Linked DNA regions of Homo sapiens: all the other regions are linked to region 4. The links come from fine-mapping of genetic effects on gene expression. A gene starts in region 4. Each other region holds a variant in brackets. All regions are shown on one strand. Distances are from middle to middle. Region 1 overlaps LOC105378977 (a long non-coding RNA gene). Region 2 overlaps ANKRD55 (ankyrin repeat domain 55). Region 3 overlaps ANKRD55 (ankyrin repeat domain 55). Region 4 holds the start of ANKRD55 (ankyrin repeat domain 55). Region 5 overlaps ANKRD55 (ankyrin repeat domain 55).

The links. PIP is the estimated chance that this variant, and not a neighbour inherited with it, causes the effect. A credible set is the group of variants that fine-mapping cannot tell apart.
Region 1: its variant is the best candidate, but not a certain one, in a credible set for the expression of ANKRD55 in whole blood (INTERVAL, PIP 0.53).
Region 2: its variant is the best candidate, but not a certain one, in a credible set for the expression of ANKRD55 in whole blood (INTERVAL, PIP 0.55).
Region 3: its variant is the best candidate, but not a certain one, in a credible set for the expression of ANKRD55 in lung (TOPMed, PIP 0.89).
Region 5: its variant is the best candidate, but not a certain one, in a credible set for the expression of ANKRD55 in whole blood (INTERVAL, PIP 0.88).

The regions. Positions count from the first base shown.
Region 1 is chr5:56,333,386-56,338,492 of GRCh38, reverse strand. All of the region lies in intron 2 of LOC105378977 (a long non-coding RNA gene), which reads right to left. Among named protein-coding and RNA genes, the nearest start is that of ANKRD55, 100 kb to the right of the region's middle. The variant C/AC (reference allele first, on the strand shown) is at 2,187.
Region 2 is chr5:56,173,674-56,178,780 of GRCh38, reverse strand. ANKRD55 (ankyrin repeat domain 55) reads left to right here. Exons shown (of 12, transcript NM_024669.3): 4 at 2,499-2,629. Among named protein-coding and RNA genes, the nearest start is that of ANKRD55, 57 kb to the left of the region's middle. The variant A/G (reference allele first, on the strand shown) is at 2,768.
Region 3 is chr5:56,111,764-56,116,870 of GRCh38, reverse strand. It overlaps ANKRD55 (ankyrin repeat domain 55), which reads left to right. Exons shown (of 12, transcript NM_024669.3): 9 at 89-256; 10 at 5,089-5,107. Among named protein-coding and RNA genes, the nearest start is that of ANKRD55, 120 kb to the left of the region's middle. The variant T/G (reference allele first, on the strand shown) is at 2,042.
Region 4 is chr5:56,231,009-56,236,115 of GRCh38, reverse strand. It overlaps ANKRD55 (ankyrin repeat domain 55), which reads left to right and starts at 2,786. Exons shown (of 12, transcript NM_024669.3): 1 at 2,786-2,875; 2 at 3,170-3,260. The coding sequence starts at 3,203.
Region 5 is chr5:56,103,416-56,108,522 of GRCh38, reverse strand. The region is part of intron 10 of ANKRD55 (ankyrin repeat domain 55); the gene reads left to right. Among named protein-coding and RNA genes, the nearest start is that of IL6ST-DT, 110 kb to the right of the region's middle. The variant A/G (reference allele first, on the strand shown) is at 2,165.

The DNA of each region.
Region 1 (5,107 bases), 100 kb before region 4:
CTATTATGGGTTGAATCATGTCCCGCCAAAAGATATGCTAAAGTCCTAACCCCGGTACCTCAGAATGTGACTTTATTTAGAAGTAGGATTATTGCAGATTCAATTACTTAAGATGATGTCACACTAAAGTATGGTGGGCTCTTTTTCCAATACGAGTGGTGGAAGAAGGAGGAGATTGAGAAGACGACGATGAAGAACAGACGAAGAAGGAGAAGGAGGAGAAGGAGTAGAAGAAGAAGGAGGAGAAGGAGTAGAAGAGGAAGAAGAAGAAGAAGGAAAAGAAGAACAAGAGGAGGAGGACGAGGAGGGGAGGAGAAAGGAGAAGAAGAGGAGGAGGAAGAAGAAGAGGAAGAAGAAGGAGGAGGAGGAGGAAGAGGAAGAAGACAAGGAGGAGGAAGAAGAAGAAGAAGACAGAAGGAGGAGGAGGAGGACAAAGGGGAGGAAGAGGAGAAGGAGCAGGAGGAGGAGGGGGAGGGGGAGGAGGAACAGAAAGGAGGAGGAGAAGGAGAAGGAGGAGAAGGAGAGAAACAAAGACAAAGGCAGGAAATTGAAGTGATTCATCTACAAGCCAAGGAATACCAAGGACTGCCATCCATCACCAGAAGCTGGGAAACAGACATGGAACAGATTCTTCTTCAGAGCTCTCAAAAAGAACTAGCCCTGCTAGCACTTTCATTTCAGATTTGTAGCACCCAGAAATGTGAGAGAATAAATTTCTGTTGTTTTAAGCCTCCCAACTTGGAGTATTTAGTTACGACAACCCTGGGAAACTAGTACATATTCTCATACCCTTGAGTTGAGAAAAATTGCACACATGCTGTCTCTCTCTCTCTCTCTCTCTGTCCTCTCCTCTCCCTTATTGGCAAGTGGAGCTTAGAGCATAGGAACAACTCTCTCCAAACTGCCCTCTTCACAAAATCCAATCTCTACCTTCCAGCCTTTTTTGATACTTTTAATCAGATTGAAAGGATATACGAATTATAGATCCAGTGGTCTTGAACAGATAAGAATTCAAGCACAGGTTGATTTGGGAGAAGACATCAGTGGGAAAAGAAGAAGTAAAATGAAAGAGAAGACAATAAAGGGTGTGTTATCAGGCCAGCTCCTACTTGGGGTGACTGGAGCTTAATCTCTTAGGGAAGCTCTGGGAAAGAGTGTAAAACATAAATCAGAGTTATCTCAACCCATCTGAGGGTGAGGGAACTGAGGTATTTATACATCAACTCTTTCTGTCATTGGTTGAGAGCTGCTACCTTGGGGAGTGGGATAGAACCATTGGTGTGCTGGTAAATGTTTAACAACCATAACAGGGCACTTTTCATGAGGCCTCTCAGATAATCTGTACCTGAGGGGCACCCTCTGGCACTTTTGTCGTGGGAGCAGAGTAGCCTTCTGCAAGGGTATGTAGATACTGGTGAGGGCTAGAGCCAGTGGTGTGCTGGTAAATATTTAACAAACAGCTTTCTGGCTGGGGAGGTGGGGGAAGACTATCAATATATTTTTAAGAAATTAAAAATATATTAAAAGTATTTATACAAAAGTTTATTATATTTTCTAATATAAAGGTTCTGTATCACATAATTTATAAATAATAATAAGATATATAAAGCTCTTTATTATAAATTGGATAAAGCCAATTGATGTTCACAGAATACTTCCATTGCTTTTTTGCTGAGTTCTTGTTTCTGTAGCCAACCAATGATGAATGCGTATAGTTTTGATAGGAATGTTGGTTGATATTTTTATTATGTTAACAAAGTGAAACTGTGAAGATGTGTTGTGGGCATTCATTAGGGAATGATGTCTTTGCTGAATTAGATAATACTTATGGAATAACTATGGAAGAATTTTCCTCAAAGTTTTTGTGCTATTCACAATGTAATAGCTACAGACATACTTTGATTTTAATCTGCCTTACTAAATAATGATAAGGTTCAGTGCTGTAAGCCTGTAAATTTTCCAAAAATTAACCTGTAAGTTCAATGCAATTCTGATGAAAGAAGCAGGAGAATATATAATGAAACTAAACAATTCTAAAATTCATTTGGAAGTTTAAATGTTCAAGAATAGACAAAACAACGTTCAAAAAAGAGAACACTAAGAAGGAGGCTAGTCCTGACATATAAATCTAAATCATTGAGACAGTCTGGCACTGACATAGGCATATGGATCAGTAGATTAGAAAA[C/AC]TAAATAGAGACGCATAAAGCACAAGTTATGTGATTTGTATGTGATCCAGGTGGCATTACAAACCAGTGAGAAAATGGTACAAGTGACTGTCATATAGAAAAAAAGTGAAGTTATGTTCCTACTTCATAATATTCTAAAAAATAAGTTTTATATGGTTTGGATTTGGTCCCTGTGCAAATCTCATGTCAAATTGTAATCCCTAATCTTGAAGGAGGGGCCAAGTGGGAGGTGACCGGGTCATGGGGGTGGATTTCCCTCTTGCTGTTCTTCTGATAGTGAGTGAGTTCTCATGAGATCTGGTTGTTTAAAAGTGTGTAGCACCTTTCTCTCCTCTTCCTCCTGTTCCAGCCATGTAAGATGTGCCTGCTTCCCCTTCACCTTCTGCCATGATTGAAAGTTTCCTGAGGCCTCCCCAGCTACGCTTCGTATACAGCCTGCAGAACCGTGAGCCAACTAAACCTCTTTTCTTTATAAATAAACCAGTCTGAGGTACCTCTTTATAGCAATGTAAGAACAAACTAATACAGAAAATTGGTACCTAGGAATGGGGCATTGCTATAGATACCAGAAAATGTGGAAGCAGCTTTGGAACTGGGTAACAGGCAGAGAGGTTGGGACAGTTTGGGGGGGCTCAGAAGAAGACAGGGAGAGGAAGGAAAGTTTGGAACTTCCTAGAGACTTGCTGAATGGTTTTTACCAAAATGCTGATAGTAATATGGACAGAGATGGCCAGGCTGAGGAGGACTCAGGTGGAGATGATGAACTTATTGGGAACTGGAGAAAGGGTAACTTTTGTTATGTGTTAGCAAAGAACTGGGCAGCATTGTGCCCCTGCTCTAGAGATCTGTGGGAAAGCCTGGATGTTCAGGCAGAAGTCTGCTACAGAGGTGGGGCCCTCAAGGAGAACCTCTACTAGGCCAGTGCAGAGGGAAAATGTGGGGTTGGAGCCCACACACAGAGTCCCCACTGAGGCACTGCCCACTGGAGTTGTGAGAAGAGGGCCACTGTCCTCCAGACTCTAGAATGGTAGATCCACTGATAGCTTGTGCTGTGCATCTGGAAAAGCCACAGGCACACAACACCAACCTTTGAGAGCAGCTATGGGGGCCAAGCCCTGCAGAGCCACAGAGGCAGAGCTGCCCAAGTCTGTGGGAGCCCACTCCTTGCATCAGTATGGCCTGGGTGTGAGGCACAGAGTCAAAGGAGATTGATTTAGAACTTTAAGATTTAATGACTGCCCTGCTGGGCTTCAGACTTGTATGGGGCCTGCAGCCCCTTTCCTTTGGCCAATTTCTCCCATTTGGGATGAAAGGATTTACCCAATTCCTATACCCCTATTGCATCTTGGAAGTAACTAACTTGTTTTTTTATTTTACAGGCTCATAGGCAGAAGGGACTTGCCTTGTCTCAGATGAGACTTTGTTTTCGTTTTTGTTTGCTTTTTTGGTTTTCTTTTGAGAAGGAGTCTCACTCTGTCACCTAGGCTGGAGTGCAGTGGCATGATCTCAGCTCACTGCAACCTCCATCTCCTGGGTTCAAGCAATTCTCCCTGCCTCAGCCTCCTGAGTAGCTGGGATTACAGGTGCCCACCATCATGCCTGTCTAATTTTTATATTTTTAGTAGAGACGAGGTTTTGCCATGTTGGCCAGGGTGGTCTTGAACTCCTGACCTTAGGTGATCTGCCCACATCGGCCTCCCATAGTGCTGGGATTACAGGTTTTAGCCACCATGCCCAACCTCAGATGGACTTTTGAGTTAATGCTGAAATGAGTTAAGACCTGGGGAACTGTTGAGAAGGGATTATTGTATTTTGCAATGTGAGTAGAACATGAGATTTGGGAGGGGCCAGGGGTAGAATAATATGGTTTGGATTTGTGTCCCCATCCAAATCCCATGTCAAATTGTAATCCCCAATCTTGGAGGAGGGGCCTGCTGTGAAGTAATTGGATTTTGGGGTCAGATTTTCTCCTTGCTGTTCTCATGATAGTGAGTGAATTCTCATGACACCTGGTTGTTTAAAAGTGTGTAACACCTCCCCCTTGTCTTCTCTTTCTCCCGCTCCAGCCATGTAAGATGTGCCTCCTTCCCCTTTGCCTTCTGCCATAACTGTATGTTTTCTGAGGCCTCCTCAGCCATGTTTCCTGTACAGCCTGCAGAACCATGAGCCAATTAAACCTCTTTTCTTTATAAATTATCCAGTCTCAGGTAGTTCTTTATAGCAATCCAAGAACAGACTAATACAAAGTTCTGAATAAATTAAAGATCAAATGTGAAAAATAGGACTTAAAGACAGTGTATACATTTAATAGGAAAATCTTCATGAATTGAAGGTAGGGAATGATTTCTTAGACAAGACAAAAAAAGTATGACTTATAAAAAACAGGTTTGGTAAATCTTTAAGCTTTTGATAAAACTTTAATTGAAATTTTTGATAAAAATTTAATTAAAATGTAGAGCTTCTCTCCCTCAAAATACATCATTTTTAAAGGACAATTTACAGACTTACAGAAAATATTTGAACCATAAGTGACAGACTGAGGATTAGTATTCACAAATGTAAAGGACCACCGAAGTTGTAACAAACATGGGTGGAGACTATGAACAGGAAACTCACTGAAGTGGAAATCTAAATGACCAACAATCATACAAAAATATTATCGGCTTCACATGTAATAAGGGAAATGTGAGTAAAATAATAATGAAATACTACTTTACACACTTTGGATTGGCAAAGACTTTAAAGTCCAACAGTATCAACAATTGGCCAAGATGTGGGAAATGGAAAGGAGCACACACTGCTTTGGTGAGTGTAAATTAACACACTCATGACTGGGAGTGGTGACTCACACCTTTAATCCCAACACTTTGAGAGGATGAGGTGGGAGGATTGCTTGAATTCAGGAGTTTGAGACCAGCCTG
Region 2 (5,107 bases), 57 kb after region 4:
ATTGATAGCTCTATTATATTGAGTCTTTTCCTTCATAAACATAGTATCTTCCCATGTTTAGTTCTTCTTTTATGTCACCCAGTAAGTTTTATACTTCTTATCCACATAAGTCTTGCTCTTCTTTGGTTAGATTTATTCCTAAGTACCGTATTTTTGTTGTTGTTGCTTTTGTTTTTTGTTACTTTTCCTATTGCTTTTGTTTAAGGAAGACCTTTTCTTTTATATATGAATTTTACATACAGGAACAATGCTGTACTGTCTTACTTGTTTTATTTTGAGGGTTTTTTTTTTTCTATTTTCTACAAGGACAAATGTACCAACTTAAAATAAATTTTGGAACCCCATTTGGAGATAAATCTGTCATTCCTCCCTAAACCTCAGTTAGAGACACCTCAGGAAAATTATTTTAAACTTAAGAAATATTTGGGCCAGATGCAGTGGCTCACGCCGGTAATCCCCGTACGTTGAGACATTGACGTGGAAGGATTGCTTGAGCCTAGAAGGTCAAGGCTGCAGGGAGCCATGATCACACCACTGCACTCCAGCCTGGGCAACAGAGCAAGATGCCGTCTCAAAAAAAAAAAAAAGAAAGAAAAGATTTGTTCAGTAATCATTTGGTTATGCATTTCAGAATTGCTGTTTAATATCTTCCCGGTACCAGGTACAGTGGTTGGTACCGAGGATTCAGTGATGAGCAGGAGAGATGTGGTTCCTTCCACTTCGAATTATAGCTTAGAAGAGACAAATTTTAAACACGTGATTATGCTCAATCAATACATAATTGTAAAATATTAAAAGAATTACTAGAGAAAAATGAAGGATGATGAAAAATTATAACATGGACATCCAGTTCACAATGGAGGGTCAGGAAGGTGTTCCCTGAAGAAATTTATATGTAAGCTAGGCTCTCAAGATAGATGTAAATTAGCCAGACATAGCATGTAATTTTATGAAAACAATATCTAGGGATTCTGTTTTTGTTTCTTTGTGTGTGTGTTTTTTTTTTGAGATGGAGTCTCACTCTGTCACCCAGGCTGGAGTGCAGTGGCACAATCTCGGCTCACTGCAACCTCCACCTCCCGGGTTCAAGCAATTCTCCTGCCTCAGCCTCCTGAGTAGCTGGGATCATAGGTGCGTGCCACCATGCCCGGCTAATTTTTTTTGAATTTTTAGACAGGGTTTCACCATGTTGGCCAGGCTGTTCTCGAACTCCTGGCCTCAAGAGATCTGCCCACCTCTGCCTCCCAAAGTGCTGGGATTACAGGCAGGAGCCACCACACCCGGCCTATCTAGGGATTCTTTAGCTTTACTTACTGAGCATTTCAGATTCACAGATTGCTTCAATAATTGCCTTTTGCAGCATGTCCTTTTTTTCTCTCAATAGTTATAATTACCACTTGTTGACAGGAAGAAAGGAAGGGAGGAAGGGAAAGGAAGGAAATTTTGCAACTATTTTAAGACATAGCACTTCATTGCTGCTTTTTCCCAGTACAGATGACTGAAAGAGTTTCAGAAGGAAAAAAATTGGAGAGAAATTGAGTTGCCGACTGCAACTCAATTTCTGGTGTCCTAGGGACTGCACTGCAAAGCTCATCACTCCCTCCAGGCAATGTTCAAATTCAAATATTAAAGAAAACTTTGGCAAAAGGGACACTTAGAAGTTAAGACTCAGCCACAACTCTGAACTCGGTGTTCTTTCAGTGAAAACAGAAATCTTGGGATTTACCCTTTCTTGGGGATTTCTCAGGGTCATAGCTTGCAGTTCATCTGGAGAAGAATCACAATCTCCAGTCCAAAGACATCTACACAAGTCTCGACTGGGCAAGGAGTGAATCTGAGGTTTGAGTTCTTCACCTGAAGGAATAAGAAGCACCTGGATCCTGCTTCATGAGGCTGGCTTGTTCCAACAGCCCTGCAAAGTTCATCAAAATGTGTAATTTCATCTCTATTTTTATTCAGAAAGAAAACACATAAAAAACTAAATGCCTTGACCTATATTGATTCTGAAAACAGAGAAGCATTTCAGTACAGGTGGCCACTTTTTCAGCAAGAGTTTGTGCAATCCAAGGCTGGGTACTGTTGCTGCCCCTTAACACCTGCCACCCCCTATAAAAGTGTGCTGAACCCATCTGCCTAGATAGAGCGGCTTTCCAAAGGCACTCCTAGATTCTACATGGTTCAAGCCAAGTCAGGATAAATCTGCCTGTTATGTCTTAAATTATGCTGATCCCTGACACAGTCATAAGCAATTTTTATCATCTACCCAAAATGTTTTACTCAGCCAATTATTGCAAAATTGCAGAAGATTGAAAAGAGCCAGTAAAAAAAATACATAGTTTATAGAGATGTAGCAACAATCAGCTTCATCTCCCTTCAGTCCCATACAAACAGCTGGGTTTGTATTGCAAATAGCAAAATAAATGAACAGGCCAATAAAGCCTGCTCATCAGTTTCATGGGTCACACATGTTTAAAGGCTGTTGAAATGTCTCATTCCAGGATGCACGCCCTTGATGCATGCGGTTTCTGGACGTCAAGCGGACACAGTGAAGCTGCTGTTGAAGATGGGAGCCAATATTAACATGCAGGATGCTTATGGCCGCACAAGTTTATGCCTGGCCACCTACCTGGTACTGACTTGTGCCTGTCACAGGGTGGAAGGAGCAGGGTAGGCGAAGGGTGTCATTATGGGGTCCCAGTTGCAAAGGAGCATTCTTGGATCTATGCAGCTGGCTAAAGGAGCTGGAACTTGAAGCTTTACTCCAATC[A/G]TCTTCAACGTTTATATCCCCACTTAGAGTTGGTTTCATGAATTTGGGCCATTTTGGATCTTCCTAACAATCCTCTAAGATAGAGGTGATATGGCCATTAGGGAAACATTCTTTTCTATCTTAATGGCATCAGAATTTCTCTTGGGATATTTCTGGACACACTTGGTGCTTCTAAAAACAATCTCCCTAAATAACCCCAACAGGGTGGGAATACTGTGAAGATCCAATTAACATCTGTGGGGTAGGATTGGTTGAGTAGAAGCTTGAGGCTAAGGAATGTGGAGAACAACGAGAACTGGGGAAGGTGGTGGGAGGGACTGGAAGATAAAGAACAGGGGAGACAAAGCAGGCTCTTAAAGGGACAACGCCAAGCAGATGACTCAGCCCACAATCAGGGCTCAATTTAACAACTGTGTCATAATACTAGTCCTCACCGGTAGAGATTTCAGTTCAGCATTTCCCAACATTAGAGCAAGCCTGGTTAAGCCTTACTGAAAATCCTCAAGACCCTCTCCTCTCAAACTCTTCCTGCAATCCTTTTGGGAGGTCCTAGGGGTGCCTTGAGTCCATGTCAAACAAGTCCTAACCACCACATGGAGGTCATCCTTTTTCTTCCTCTCCAGAGAGGTACCCAGAAATCTTCACTATGACCACCATTGCTACCAGTGCAGCTTCTTGCATTTGCTATGGCTTGCATTTGCTATTGCTGCCCACTGATGGTGGTGAATTCACTCTGGACCAGCCCCATTGAGGGTGTCCTGCTGAATTAAATCACTTCCCTTTCCCAAACACCACCCCTTTCTGCCATGACCTATCATAGATTGCAATGAAGCATTGCCCAAGTCTCACAGAGATTTCCTTTAGAGCCTACTTTTTCATTTTCTATTTGTGCTCTCTCTCTAGAACTCACATGCAAATCTGGGAAGAAATTTTCAAACTGTGGTCCACAGATCTTTTGTGTCAATATCCCTTGGGGTGCTTGTTTCAAATGCAAATGCCAGGCTGGTCTGATGGTAGAGGGTTATCAGAACTTATTCACATTAGTGTCAAATGCAGGTACCAGGGGTATACCCTAGACCTTCTGAGTCAGATACTCTGGGAGCAGGACTGGGGTAGTTGGTGTTGGGGGAGTCTGCATGTTGAACAAACCTCCTTGGCAATTTTTTTTTTTTTTTTTTTTTTTGAGACAGAGTCTCACTCTGTCACCAGGCTGGAGTGCAGTGGTGCGATCTCAGCTCACTGCAGACTCTGCCTCCCAGGTTCAAGCGATTCTCCTGCCATAGCCTCCCAGGTAGCTGGGACTACAGGCATGCACCACCACACCCAGCTAATTTTTGTATTTTTAGTAGAGACAGGGTTTCACCATGTTGGCCAGGATGGTCTCGATCTCTTGACCTCATGATCTGCCCGCCTCAGCCTCCCAGGCGATTTTTAAAAACTTGCCCATCAAGTTTAAAAGCCACTGGTCTGTGCATATTAGCCGAAGTCCCATATCTCAGACAGACATATGGCTGTCCTCCTAGCCCCCTCCCTTCTAGCACATGCCTTAAGAACTGCTCTTGCTATGGACTTTTCCAGTGTCTGAGCTGAAGAAAAGAGAAAACTGGGATAAGGGGGTAGAGGAAGGGCATAGAAGGGGTTTCTAAAGTTGACTGCCACTAGCAAATAGAATGTAGTGAAAGCAAACTGTCCCCCTTTCAAAGTTCAAAAATTCAAAATTTTACATTTCTTTGACTAGAGAGCTATGCAAGGGACTGGGAAGAAGTACTCCTCTAAATCACGGTGAATAATGATGGACACCCTTGGAGCCTGGAAAGTTGACACCTTTGCAGACAACTCTTTCTAGGAATATATTCTAAGGGCTGCATGAGAAGAGTCTGCCAGCAGGACACCATGTGGTGCCACCTTTTTAACTCTGCCCCCATCTCCCTGTGGCTCCCCAAGGCAGGACCCTCCATTGTTCTGCTGGGGCTCACGGGAAGCAGTTGTCCTGGGGACTGCACTGTGAAGCTTATCCCTCCCTCCTGGCAATGTTCAAATTCAAGAATTAAAGAAAAATGTCGCAAACGGGACACTTAGAAGTTAAGTCTCAGCCACAACTCTGAACTCAGTATACAAAAAAACCTTACCACAGATGTGTCAAACTCAAATAAAATATGTAGAGTTGAGGCCAGGCACGGTGGCTCACGCCTGTAATCCCGCTACTTTGGGAGGCCAAGAGGCTAGAGGATCACCTGAGGTTGGGAGTTTGAGACCAGCCTGACCAACATGGAGAAACCCTGTCTCTACTAAAAATACAAAATTAGTCGGGCGTGGTGGCGCATGCCTGTAATTCCAGGT
Region 3 (5,107 bases), 120 kb after region 4:
TGACTTTGAGCAGGAGCTGTTGCTGGCTAAGCAGCCTGAACAATTCACATGCTCAGACGCTTGTGCTTTTTTCACATGGCCCCTCCAGGACACCTCTGCACTGGGCTGCAGCTGCAGGGAAGGCCGAATGTGTCCAGTCACTGCTGGAGTTGGGAATGGACAGCAACCTGCGGGACATCAATGAGAGCACGCCCTTGGCCTATGCCCTGTACTGCGGTCACACGGCGTGTGTCAAACTCCTCTCCCAAGAGAGCAGGTGAGTACAACAGGAGCCAGTTATTTTTCTATTCTTCTCAACTATTTATAAATTTGGATGAAATGTTTTAAATTGCCAAGGTGCAAACCAATAATAATATTATTATACTTTTATAATATAATTAATGTTACATAGTATTAAAGACATTAAATGATTCTATAATTAACGTTTGCCATTATCTAACACAGAATAAAGTGCTCTTGGAGCAAAATGATAGTAGTGAATCCAAATCCATCAGCCTAATATTCACTGAACTTGAATCTCTTCTTTCCTTTTCTCTCTTTCCTCTTCCCTTTTTGGCAAATCCTCTGAATCCCTCTTTTGCCTAATTTGATGAGTCTCAAACTTTCGTTCTCGGGACCCTTTTACACTCTCAAAAATTATTAAGGGCCCCCAGATAACTTTAGTTTATGAGAGTCAAACCCGTCAATATTTATGGCATTAGAAATTAAAACCGAGCGGCCAGGTGCGGTGGCTCATGCCTGTAATCCCAGCACTTTGGGAGGCTGAGGCAGGTGGATCACCTGAGGTCAGGAGTTCGAGACCAGCCTGGCCAACATGGTGAAATCCCACCTCTACTAAAAATACAAAAATTAGCCAGGCATGGTGGTGGGTGCCTGTAATCTCAGCTACTTGGGAGGCTGAGGCAAGAGAATAGCTTGAACCTGGGCGATGGAGTTTGCAGTGACCCGAGATCACTCCATTGCACTCCAGCCTGGGTGACAGAGTGAGACTCCGTCTCAAAAAAAAATTAATTAATTAATTAAAATGAGAAATTTTTAATAAAATATGCATTGTTATCCATTTAAATTAATAATAAACATTACATTTACATGAGAACATAAATAGCATATTTTAATTAAAAATAAAATGTTTTATTTAATATTTCTATTTCCCAAAACAAAAATATTGTCATGAGAAGAGCAGCATTGTTTTATATTTTTGGCAACTCTCTTTGGTAGCTTAATACAAGCTTAATAGAATACAGCTGCGGGCTGGGCATGGTGGCTCACACCTGTAATCCTAGCACTTTGGGAAGTTGAGGCGGGTAGATCACCTGAGGTCAGAAGTTCAGCTAGACCAGCCTGGCCAACATGGTAAAACCCCATCTCTACCAAAAACAGAAAAACTAGCCAGATGTGGTGGTGCGTGCCTGTAACCCCAGCTACTGGGGAAGCTGAGGCAGGAGAATCGCTTGAGCCTGGGAGGTGGAGGTTGCAGTAAGCCGAGACAGTGCCACTGCACTCCAGCCTGGATGACAGAGCAAGACCGTCTCAAAAAAAAAAAAAAATAGAATAAAGTGGGTTCCACATCTACTCTTTGCATTCTCTCTGTTGCGATGTAATGTGTTTTGTTTTTTGGTTTGGGGGTTTGCTTATTTATTTATTTATTTATTTATTATTATTATTATTTTTAGAACCAGAGTCTCACTTGTCATCCAGGCTGGTGTGCAGTGGCATAATCATGGCTTACTGCAACCTTGAACTCTTGGGCTCAAACGATCCCCTCACCTCAACCTCCTGAGTAGCTGGGACTTTAGGCATGTGCCACCATGCCCAGCTGGGTTTTCTTGTTTTTTGGTTTTTTATTTTTTTGTAGAGATGGCCTCACTATGCTACCCAGGCTGGTCTCAAACTCCTGGCCTCAAGCAGTCCTCCCACCTTAGCCTCCTGAAGTGCTGGGATTAGAAGTGTGAGCCATCATACCCAGCCACAGTATCATGTTTTGATTGATGTATATAAAAACGATCCAGCCTTATATAAATACGTAGTTGGAAAAGGCAGG[T/G]GTATCTCAATAGGCTTTTCAGATAATTGTGTGTATTTTTCTTTGATACGATACCAAAACTTAACAAGCAGCAGTTTCTTAAAGGTTAATTGCAATGTGGATTCTCACCATATCAATGAATTTTTTGTACTCTGTCACATTAGAATACATTACTATACCTTATACTTTAAATGGGTCTTATACACATGCGTGATTTTATTAACACCTTGCATTGGTCATTTGGAAAATATTGGTTCACTTAATTATAAAGATCTTCCAGATGACACATTTCATTATACAATATCAAAAAGTCACATTTGTTAACATCACCACCAATCTATTGGACAAGCTTTATATACTGAGATGGTGTCAAGCTTACAATGTGAATATAAGTTTTCCAAAATTCTAGTTTTTGCTTGAAAGCTAGACTTTTGTCATTGGCTACAATAACTGTCAGTTATTTATCTTGAAATGAAATATTCACTGTATTCGTTTTATTTTATTTATTTGTTTATTTATTTTGAGATGGAGTTTCGCTCTTGTTGCCCAGGCTGGAGTACAATGGCACGATCTCGGCTCACCGAAACCTCTGCCTCCCAGGTTCAAGTGATTCTCCTGTCTCGGCCTCCAGAGTGGCTGGGATTACAGGCATGTGCTACTACCCCTGGCTAATTTTGTATTTTTAGTAGAGACAGGTTTTCTCCATGTTGGTCAGGCTAGTCTCTAATTCCCAACCTCAGGTAATCCACCCGCCTCGGCCTCCCAAAGTGCTGGGATTACAGGCGTGAGCCACCACGCCTGGCCCACTTTATTCATTTTAATATATTTTTATTGTATATATATATATATATATATATATATATAGTATACATATTTTGATATAAATATACCTAGTCAGATGGGTCGAGCGCAGTGACTCACGCCTGTAACCTCCACACTTTGGGAAGCCAAGGTGGGTGGATCACTTGAGCCCAGGAGTTCAAGACTAGCCTAGCCAAGATGGCAAAACCCCATCTCTACTGAAAATACCAAAATTAGCTGGGCGTGGTGGCATGCACCTGTAATCCCAGACACTTGGGAGGCTGAAGCACGAGAAATACTTGAACTCAACTGCAACTTTGTACCCTTCGACCTACACCTCCCATTCCCCCACCTCACCCTCACTTCTGGTAATCACTGTTTTACTCTCTGTTTCTGTGTATTTCACTTTATTTATTTTGCAGAAATTTCTGCAAATACTTAGCTCTACATAACCACAGTTTGTCTGCAAGGCATAAAAATGGTGTTCCGTGAAAAAAGTGTCCGGTTCAGCCCGCGACTCAAACAATTGCACAGCTGCTTTACCCCAAGACAATCATCACACCTCCGTATATAGTAGAATTGCTTACGAGTGCTTCTTATTTTGTCAAACAAGTGTACTCAAGTTAATATTTAATCAAATTAATAACTTGTACTCCCTAAACAAGGACATTATTAAGTTAAAGGACTTTTTTTTTCTGCAAGTACATTGATGCCACTATTGTCCTGATTTGTACTGAGGCAGCCACCATTTTACCCACCACCTCTATTGCACCATCGATGCAAGGCAGCACAGTGAAAAAGACAAATAACGTTGTGATGTTATTATGAATAGAGTTTAATGCCATAAACCCCTTAAAAAGTCGGGGATCCCTCTCCAAGGGTTCAGTGGACCCCATTTTGAGACCCAGAGGCCTAAAGCACAAGCTGTAACAGGAGGAGGAGATGGCTTACACAAGATGCTGCAATAGCATCAATTCACACAGACATATTCTTTATAGGGAAACTTGAGCGTCGGAAGTGCCCTGGGGCTCTCTCTCTGGTGGTATTAGGAGTCTAGAATTCAGTATTTCAAAAAGCCCATTGGAAGGTGAAAGAATAAAGATAAGACTACATCATGGAATAAAAATTCAAAGGATGCACTGTGTGACCTGTAGAGAAAACATTCATTATATGCATCCAAAATAAGTGGTGATGTTTTTCAAATTGCAGATTGCGATATCTCACTCCAGAAAGTAGTGTTGCAATCTGACTCAGGGGCACACACACGGGTCAGGTTTCATCGTTAATTCATACCGCAGAAAGCATTAAGTCAATTGGAGCCTCAAAAGAGAATCACACAGAATTTTCTAAGGAACACAAACAGAATCTTGCCTCAGGGAACCTCTCGACAACTGCTGGCCTTTTTCCTTTATAATTTGCCTGCGCATTGGGCATTGCTCACTTTCTTCTGCAGCCACGCCCGACCTTGGTCATGCACTCCTCCTCTTCCCTCGCTGGAGCCCAGACTAAAGCTTCTTTCCTTGGTTGTTTTTTTTTTTTTTTTTTGCTAGAGATGAGATCCTGCCATGTTGCCCAGGCTGGTCTCAAACTCTTGACATCAAGTGATCCTCCTGCCTCAGCCTCCCAAAGTTCTGGAATTATAGGCATTAGCCACCGTACCTGTTCTTCAGCATACTTTTTTTAAAAGTACTTTTCGATAGGAAAGTTTTAGTTTAAAATGGGGAGGGGTCTCTGAGGGGGATAATGTCAGTCGGTCAGCACTCGGTCCAGGTTTTCTAGGATCTCTGTCAGAGAAAGCCTAAAACCACATTCCCCCCACCTCAGCAACCTCCTCCATCCTTCTGCTCATTGAAGCCTGAACTCAAACCCTTAGGCTTCATCTCTGACTTCAACTTGCGTGCCTACTGACTGTCCTTGAGATGTGAGAACAACACTTTCAGCTAATTTTCAGTTTAGTTAACCTCTTGTTGAAAACAGATGATCTAGGTGTAAATTTTGAAAGGATATCCCCTGAAGGAGCAAGAAAAATCTAAGAAACGTCCTCCTTGGGCAAAGACTGCCCATGGTAAAGAGCCTCTTCTGGGCGGGATTGCCAGGGGTACTGTGAGTTCTTCACACTGCCTTTAACTTGAGAAGGCTTTGGAGGTATCTAGGAAGGATCTCAGAAAACCTGATGAAGCATGTGGAATAGGGGGTCGGTATTTCGGTGAGTGATGTCTCTACTTCCCATACTCACATATCATCCCTGCTCTTTTATATTCGCATAGAACAGAGCCTACTCGACCC
Region 4 (5,107 bases):
AGGTTTCCCAATTCAATGACTGCAGTTCTCACTGTCTGCAGAGAAGAGCAATCACAGAACTCTTCAAAGATGCTGGGGTTCCCCTCACAGATTTATTCCTATTCCTCACGGTACTGCTAAAAGTATGTCTTCTAGACCCTCCAGTGTGGGTGAGTAGTTCTTAAATGACAAATCCACTCTGACATTCCAATCTCCCTAAGCCTTTGAATCTCTTCCACATTAAACCAAGGCAAGTCCAGTATTTCCAATTTGCTCACCCTGGGCCACTTTTTGGTCCATGTTTCAACCCACTAACCTGACTGTTAGAACACTTTATAACTGCCTGAGCTGCAACAGTAAATGCAGAATTTCTGCTTAATTAGTTAATATCAATAAATTCAACCTGATCTAACTTTATGTTCCTTTCACCATTATTTCACTCCCTTAGTATCCATTCCCATGTTTCCTGGATTTTTAGGAAGTTCAAGTAATTATTTTGGAATATAATGTACTTCATGGGTCACACTTTGCACCTCACCTTTAGGGGCTGCTGGGACTTGAGTCTAGTTATAGGTCTAGAAGCAGAGGAACAATGGTGGTGGCTCCTGAAGAGAATCAGCATTGTTGTGCACGGCAGCTGCCTCAAGGAAGGCCAATACAGTTTCCTCAGGCAATTCAGAGTCAATCTTCTCAGACTGAGGTGAAAAGGCTGCTACCACTGGAGATGGGGAGGCTGCTTCTACTAGGGATTGGGAGTCCACTTCCACTGGCAAAGAAGACTCCTCAGAGTTTAGATGCTCAGTGTCCCCCAGCTTCATCAGGGTCTTCTCACATGTCTCTATCCAATTTACAGTATCCTCTACTTTCCCAATCAATGTCCTCACTTTAACAGCAGACATCCTGTGAAGCTGGGAGTTTGACTTGCGCTGTAATTCAGGAGTTCAATTTGCATTGTAATTCAGGCAGCTGCAGCATGAGAGCCTGCATTTGATTGCAGCATCCTCAGCCTCATGGCTACAGGAGGTAAGACTCTCCTTCAGGGTACACATACACACCTCCAGGTCATCTATATGGCACCTGAGCTGGGAATTAGAATCCGTGAGCTAATCCTTTTCTTTCATCACTTTGTCCAGTGACATTAGGAGCAACCAGCCATATTCATTAAGTTTCCAAAAATGTTTGAGGGTATCATCTACACAGTCACCCAACTCCTTGCCTGTTGTGTCCAGTGATTAATTAGGAATATTCAGTGCAGCTTTTTGCATATCTCTATTACCACTTCACACCATGGACTATCAATGCTCTCTTTACTCCTAGAAATAAAGCTATTAGAATCCTTAAATTTAATCAGATTTGAGAGCCAATTCCAGAAACCCTAGAACCAATCCTCAAGTACATGGTTTCTTGTTTAGACTAGAAAATTTCAAGGACTACAGAAGTTCTTGTCAGAAAGTTCTTACCCCATGAAGGATGGTTAATTGGGTTCCAATGTTACAATGTCAGTGAGCAGGTTGTCAGCTTGAGCAAGGAAAGTTCTTCAGTGAAGTTTCACTCATGCACTGAAATGTACTGAGCACCTCCTTTGTGCCCCTCTCTGTGCTAGGCTGTAAGGACATGGAGTGGACAAAGCAGACAAAGAAAGAGTAGACAAAGACCCTGCCCTTATGAAATGTACCCTCTTGTGGAGAAATATTTTAATTTGGGTTTCCGTAAAAGCAGACCCTGAGACAATGATTCCAATGCAAGTAACTTATTGAGAAGTGCAGGAAATATCAGTAGGAACGTGGGAAAGTAATACAGGGAGGGAACAGCAGCCCATAAAAAGAACGTTATTAGACCTATTCTCACAGGTGGCAGTGGAGTTTAACCCTGAAGGAGTTTAATCCTGAAAGGGAAATGGCAAACGGAGTAAAACACCATGCCTCAGAATCATCCTATCCAAGGGCAAAGGAAGCTGGTGTTTATTATTAGATTCAACAAGCATCTACTATATGGCTATTTGACTTATCCAAAAATCTGGTTGTGCCTAGAATATAGAACTTTGTTTGAATTTAGTATATCATATTTTTATTACAAATACAAGATAATAGATACTGGTTATTAACAAGCCAAAAATACAGAGATTGATACAGAACAAGTTAGAAATCTCCTACTCTAATCACAGTGGCCTGAGGGAACCAATATTAGCAGTTTAGTACGTATCTTTCTACATCTTTTTCAGTGTTCGTCTGAATATATAAAAATAATGTATACAGTGAGTGGTTTCCGGTTTTATTAAAACACGAACAAATGAAATATATAACTTGTTTATTTCATTTAACAATAGATTAGTGACATGTCACCAGATAAATACACAGATTTATTTATGTCAGATTTTTAAATCTAGAGTACGAATTTACTACCATTTACTTAGCTGCTCCCTGAATGAGGTACATTCGGGTGATTTTTCAGGTTTTACTACATGTAATGCTACAATAAACACCCTTGTGACAGCAGACTGTTTTAATTTTATCACCACAGACACTCGAGCCTTGAAATGTCACCTTTCAAATGACGCCTTTCCCCATCCTCCCTGTCAATTGGAGAACGGAGCTGAAAGGGGAGTGAAGAAGACTGCCAACATGGATAATTACTCCACACAGCACATGGCCAGCAGCCTCCTGCTACAATATTTACATCCTATTCCATTGAGATGGCACTCTCTGCTCACATGACCCAAATGCAGTTCTCACTCCGCCAAAAGCACAGCCGAATGCGAACTGCATTGGCAGCTTTGCACATGCTCTGTCTGGCCCTGTGAATCCTCACTCACCCATTCAGATTTCTGTTGGTGTAAAGCGACATTCCAGCTGCTGAAGCTCCGTGATCTGCTGTGTTTTTCCAGCCCAGATCCAAGGCAGGTGGCCCATACAATTTTACTATCTTTTTGGAGTTTGAGTAATTGTGTTTATTGATTTGGGGGTGGAGGGTGTATTATGCCCATGTACAGCTGATGAATGAGGCCATAGAGTAACTCTTTTCCTAGCAGGTATTTACAGGAATAGCATTTACCTATTTTCATCACCTTGCCTTGACAACAACCTGCAGCTCTGATGCACATTTAATCCTGAAACAGAGGTCTTGGCAAACGATGCTGCCTCTGACTGTCATGTTGACAGTAAGGTTTGAGATGGTGTTTTCTCCTCTCTAGAGACCTGGATGCTTTTTGCCATTCTGATGGTAAATGATGAGACAGGCTACCATGGATTTCAGCACCCCTTCTGTGTTTGATCAGCAAAGAGGTAAAATGCTGCTTTAACACATTCTTTGGTTGTTAGCATCCTTAGTCTCATGGTATGGATTTACAGTTGTAAGGAGAGAAAGAGAAGTGTGTGTGTGTGTGTGTGTGTGTTCATGTGCGTGGGTGTGCATGAGTATTTGCTATGTAGGATGTGGAAAGAGGATTTCACCTAGAAAACAAACCTGTTCAAAATGTTCACTTCTAGTTTGATAAGCATCTGAAACAGAAAAATAAGCTTATGATCTGTTGTATAAGCTTATGATCTTGTTGAAGTATTCCTACCTTCAAATTTTAAAAACTGGATTTCAAGCACACCAACTATTTCAGATAGTGTCATCTTTATTCTGTTTTTTCCAAATCTTTTTTAAAAATTAGGGTAAGCAATGTAAGAACACATCACATTTTTTTTGTCATTCGATTAGCCCAGTATCTCATTGCTGTATCTTCGTAAGCATTTTTTTATTCCTTTCAGGAATAGATGTTGCCTGTATTTATGTCGGGTTGATATGTTATCTCATCCAAGGTTGTGTAATGACATATCCCTATGCTATTATTTGCAATGCCAGGGTATATCTTCCTTACTTATAATTTCTGGAGTGGAGGTAATTTTCCACATCAAAATGTTGCTGTGAGATCAACTTATCCTTATAATATCACATATTTGGCCATGTGGTCTATGTGTATACATTTTGCATATGCAATGTGTTTATATACATCTTCGTGTAATACTTATGTGTAATAGTAAATCTTTTTTTAGTATAAACATGAAATTTCCATTTTATAAACATAATAAATATTTTTTAGAATCTTTTCTTAAATATCTATTATTTAAACCACTTTCTACAGTCTCTGAATATTCTTCAAGATCCTAAGTTCCTTTGGTGATTTTATCTGTTTTGGCTACAACATGAAATGGTGGTTTGAAAAAGCCTCATTAAGAAAATGTACTGCTTCATTCTTTTTTCCCTTTTCCTGCTCTAGGCCATAGCATGTTTATTACCCCTCAAGCTACATCTGGCTTTGTGGGTGAATTATTTTAGCCCAGGGGGTTTCTCCAAAAATAAATTTATATTTAGATTCCTGAGTTAGCTAATGTATATATGTGTATAGTGTGTTCTCCAGGTCTTAGCTCATTTGGAATAGTGTTTGTGTATGTGTATGTGTGTGTGTGTGTGTGTGTGTGTGTGTGTGTGTGTGTGTGTGCGCGCCTTCAGAACGTGCCGGCTCATACCGTGTTTGGATCTGAACAGCATAGAGAAAGGCGTTGTCACAGCTGTGCCCACCACCATCCTCTCCTCCTGGTACATTTTATATCACTGATGGCAGTCAGTAAAAGTGAAAATCTGCTAAGAACCAAAGAGCTCACACTGGCTGAAAAATGATGTTGCTAAGCCACGAAACATACAATGGGTTTATTTTTGAAGACTAATTGGAGGGAGCTGGGACTGACTGAAGAAGAACTAGCTCTTCATAATGAATTTACATGTTCCAGTGCTGTACCTTCTAACAGGATTGAGCCCCAAACATAGTTAAGATACAGAATTACAAGACTGATTTTCTTTTAACACCTTTCATGTGAGCAATTCACAGCAATTCCTCCACCTGGGCCGGATTCTCTCCCATGGAAGTTAACCCTCTCCCTGCCATCTTTATCTCTATTTCTCAATCCTTTCTCTCTTTCTAGAGGTTTTATCATATGATGGAAAGAGCATGGGATTTTAAATCTTATAGACGTAGATCAGAATGGCAGATCATCTACTTCTTAGCTGTGTGACCTTGGCAAGTTACCTAACCTCTCTGGGCCTTAGTTTCCCCAGGAATACAATGAAGGAAATGATGCTTACCTAG
Region 5 (5,107 bases), 130 kb after region 4:
TCCAGTCAAGATTTTGCTTCCTCCACAAAGCACTGAAGCACTTGGCTGGTGGCATGGGTAGTGTTTGCATTTTTTTCTGCAGAAGGATCAGGAAGGGAACACAGTGGTCTGCCACCTTTTGACACTTCAGGGCCTCAACCCATCCTGTTTTCCAGAGTTAGGCCTGTCCCGGCCAAACGAATACCTTCTGTTATGAAAATCATGTGAAAATCTGAAAATCTTGTTCTTTTTCCGTTCCAAAGACAGCCTTGGCCTGTCTCTTTTACATCAGTTAGGATGGGGTTCAGCTTCCTGTAAAAGAAACCCAAAGTCACAGGGGCTTGAACAACATAGAAGTTTATTGCTATCACGGCCAGGTGCAGTGGCTCAGGCTTGTAATCCCAGCACTTTGAGAGGCCAAGGGAGGTGGATTGCTTGAGCTCAGGAGTTCAAGACCAGCCTGGGCAACGTGGTTAAGCTTCGTCTCTACAAAAAATACAAAAAAAATTAGCCAGGAGTAGTGGTACTTGCCTGTGGTCTCAGCTACTTGGGGGGCTGAGACGGGAGGATCACTTGAGCCTGGGAGGCAGAGGTTGCAGTGAGCCAAGATCGCACCACTGCACCCCAGACTTGGTGACAAAGTGAGGCCCTGTCTCAAAAAAAAAAAAAAAGTTTATTGCTATCACATGAAAGAAGTCTGAAGTAGGCAGTTCCCAGACATTTGGTGGCTCCACAATCATAAGCAACATAGGCTCTTTCCATCTATGTGCCCCGTCACCTAATGTATGGCTTCTCTCCTCGAGGGGCTGATGGAGCAGGAGGAAGGAAGTAGAGAGGGGGAAAAATGCGTGTCCCCATGTGAATCAGCTCCCATTAAGAACTCATCTGGCTTAAGTGCCACACTTCCGCTTGCATCTCATTGGCCTCTAAACTTTGGTCATATATTCACAGCTATCAACAAGGAGTCTTTTAGCTGGCCACGTTGCTATCCCTCCAAAATTGGATTTCTGTTTCTAAGTGAGGGAGGAGATATTAGATGGAGAGTTAGTACATTCTGACACATGTGCCACCCAAAAATTTCCATCTTATTTGAAATAAAAAGAAATTCAATAAACGTGGTTTGGGGATTTGCTCACTTACACAATGAAATAACTAGAAAAATCCTGGGACAGCAGAATAGCAGAAAGGGGAAGGTGAATTTCTCCAATGGAATCTGCCTATATCAAATATTTTTTTCAACCAATTTTTCTGAGTGCTGATTATAACTAGGAGCCATTCTAGGCAACTGAGTCATGATAAGATAAATTTCCCAAGTGTTTTCAGCCTATAAATCAGCTTTAAGGGGTATAGATTTACTAAAATGCTTCTGCAACTGACTTTAAATTGACTTTCTTCTCATGTTTAGATACAGTCATAGGGTTTCAAAAATGGAAAGGAGCTTAGTCATTTGATCAAACATTAAATGATTGCTGAGTGTTTATCACAGTTGATTTATCAAAAGAGAGTGAGGGATTTTTTTTTTTTTTTTTTTTTAGAGAGAGATAGGATCTGTCACCCAGGCTGGAGTACTGTGGCTTGATCATAGCTCACTTCAGCCTCAAACTCCTGGGCTTAAGCAATCCTCCCATCTCAACCTCCCATGTAACTGGAACTACAGACACATCTCCTCCTCTGGCTAATTTTTTTGTCATCATTTTTTTGTAGAGACAAGGGTCTCACTTTGTTACCCAGACTAGTCTAGAACCCCTGGCCTCAAGCAATCCTCCCATCTTGGCCTCCCAAAATGCTGGCATTATAGATATGAGCCACTAAGGCTGGGTGTGGTGGCTCATGCCTGTAATCCCAGCACTTTGGGAGGCCAAGGTAGGCGGATCACCTGAGGTCAGGAGTTCGAGACCAGCCTGGCCAACATAGTGAAACCCCATCTCTACTAAAAATACAAAAATACAAAAATTAGCCAGGTGTGGTGGCGGGCGCCTGTAGTCCCAGCTACTGTGGAGGCTGAGGTGGGAGAATCGCTTGAACTCAGGAGGCAGAGGTTGCAGTGAGCCGAGATCGCACCTGCACTCCAGCCTGGGCGACAGAGCAAGACTATGTCTCAAAAAAAAAAAAAAAAAAAAAAAGCTTTCCTAGCCTTACGGATTTTATTTTTGTGATCATTTTTAACAATAATTGTTTTGAGATC[A/G]CTGAGGCTTCTGCACTACACTGAAGTGGGTGTTGTCGTTGTTGTTAGTCTAGGAGAGTTGAAACTTTATGTGAAAGTTTAATGTGGTAAAGCAGTTGGATAAATCATCCCACTATAGCACTGACTTGAACTTGGATTGTCCCTTTATCTTTGGATTTCCTCCTTTCCTGCCCTGGGTTTGGTAGAAATAATATGAGTTAGTAGTGCTGCTGTTAAAATTCCAGGCAGCCACTATCCAATGCTTACATCAGCAGCCCTGAACATTTAGCTGTAATGATTATTGCTTAACATTTATTGAGACCTGTCAGAGGTTGGATGCAGCAAGATGGGGGATGAAGCACTTATCCTAGAGACTTGGAATTTGGAGCACGTCAGCTTAATTCATTGCAGGCAGCTTTCAGAGAAAATGGAACAGAAAGCTCTGTGGTATTGTCTGCTAGCCTGGTTATTTATAAGCCGTCACAAGAAAAGTAAAAAAGTGTGCATTTCCTTTCTCCTGCAAAAGAGAGCTTCCTTCTCTAGAATTTTCTAGACTATCTCAGCCAACAATGCACTCTTCTGGCTGGTTAGGTCTGATCCTGTGATCCTTCTGTCTAAACCCATCAAACGTTTTGCATCTTTTCAGGACAAAGGCCAGGGTTCTAAACTGGGCAAACAAAGCCCTCACGGCATGGTCAGACCTCACGGCATGGTCATGCTCAGCTTCTGCACCGCCCATCTCAAATCCCCACCCCTACCTCTTCAGAAGTTCCTTGAATATGTCTCAGTTTCTTGACAATTTCATACCTTTCCATTCTATGACATCTTGGCCCTTGTTATTATTTTGGGTTCTCTCCACTGTGTGCTTGACCGATTCCTACAATCTTTTAAGAACCAGCTCAAAACTCACCTTCTATAATATGTGAAGGTCACCCTGATCTCTGTAGGAAATATGGCTCTTTCTTAGGACTGCTAATAAGAACAGCTCCACCTGGCCGGGCACGGTGGCTCACGCCTGTAATCCCAACACTTTGGGAGGCTGAGACGGGTGGATCACCTGAGGTCAGGAGTTCAAGATCAGCCTGGCCAACATGGTGAAACCCCATCTCTACTAAAAATACAAAAATTAGCCTGGTGTGGTGGCGCACGCCTGTAGTTCCAGCTACTCAGGAGGCTGAGGCAGGAGAATTGCTGGAACCCGGGAGGCAGAGGTTGCCGTGAGCCACGATGGCACTACTGCATTCCATCCTGAGAAACAGAGTGAGACACTGTCTCCAAAAAAAAAAAAAAAAAAGAATAGCTCCACCTTGCTGACCTACACACCTACACACTTCACTTTCCACAACATTGCAGGAGAGATTTTATCCTCTTTATAACTGAAGAAATTGAGACAGAGAGGTTAGCTCATCTGCCTAAGGTCACAGAGCTAGCTAGGAAGTGGCAGAGGAGATACTGGAACAAGGTCTATGGGATCCCAGAAAACCTCAACTTCTCTGGACCATTCCTTCCTCTGCAATGCCCTCACAAACTCTATCACAGCACTACTCATGGAGCTTCAAAACCATATGTTTACCTGTCTTTCCTCCCACATCAATTGCAATCCCCTCCTGAACGCCTTGCTTTCTCCTCTTTGTACTCTAGGGTCTGGAATATGATGAGTGCTCAATGGATGATTGCTGAATTATCTATTTATTATTGTTATTATCATTATTATTATTATTAATCCTGCAGTCACCTCGGGTTCCATCATGTAACTGTGAAAACATTTCCTATCCTTTTTTTCTAGGACAGTGGTCCTTGACCCTGTCCCCAAAGCTGAACACTCCCTGGAGTTGCCTGCAGCACCAGACAGCTTTGGGCTATGCACGGCTCCACCCTGTCCCTGAAAACTGAGCAAAATGCCAACATGGAATAAAGTTTAACTCCCCTTCATCTCCGAGTCACTGCTGTAGCCCTTCTTTGCCCACTGCTCCCATCTGCTTAGAGGAGGCAGAATAATAGAAGTTACAGGGTCAGCCCTATAGGGTTGAAGTCTAGGCTGTGTCCCTTCCTAGCGTGTGACTTGAGCACTTTTAGAACTCCTCCAAGTCACAAGGTCCTCATTTGTAAAATGAGGATGATAATAGAATGTATCTCACAAGAAAAAGTGATTGTCAGAGTTAAATAAGATTATGCCTACAGCATTTATCCCTATTCCTGACAAAAGTAAGTGTTCCATAAACATAACTCAAAATTATTATCTCGTTGGTTTTACAAATTTCTGCTCAAGTGTTCATGGATAAATAGTTGTTCGCTAATATAAATTTTCATGTTAATTCTACACAGGAATATTTTCTCTGTAAATAATGGCTCCTGAAGTTATTTGATGTTCAGTGTTCAAAAGGATAAAATATAATGGCAAAATATCCACCAGGGAGACTGGAGATTTAATCTCCATCAACTAACATTGCTGAGGTGGCCGCTTCTGCACAGACCATCCACCATGAGATTCACTTAAACAGATGCAAGTTGTTCTTGGCTAATCCTTTTGTTTTTTCTTTTTTTCTTATGCTATTTTGCTCCAACAGAAGACCCTTAAAGTCTAGGAGCATTGCTATAGCAATTCTGGTTCTTTCTTACTAGACTGATAGGCAAAAGATCAAATAATCTTTTTTTGTTAAGGTCTTTTGAGTACTTTACCCTATAAGCTAAATGCTTTACCCTTGTTCTCCAGTTTAATCCTCATGACAAGTGGAAAAGATATACAATTATTTTCACCATTTTGTATATGAAAAAATTGAGGTGTTGAGAGGTAATATCATTTGCCCAATGTCATATAACTGAAAAGTGGGGAAGCAGGGAATCAAGCCTAATTCTGTTTGACCCCAGAGCCCAACCAAGCTCCTATTCATGACACCATCCAGTCAATTTTAAAATGGATTTAAATCACATTTGTGTGTTCCCTTCTATTTTCAGGTATCGAAC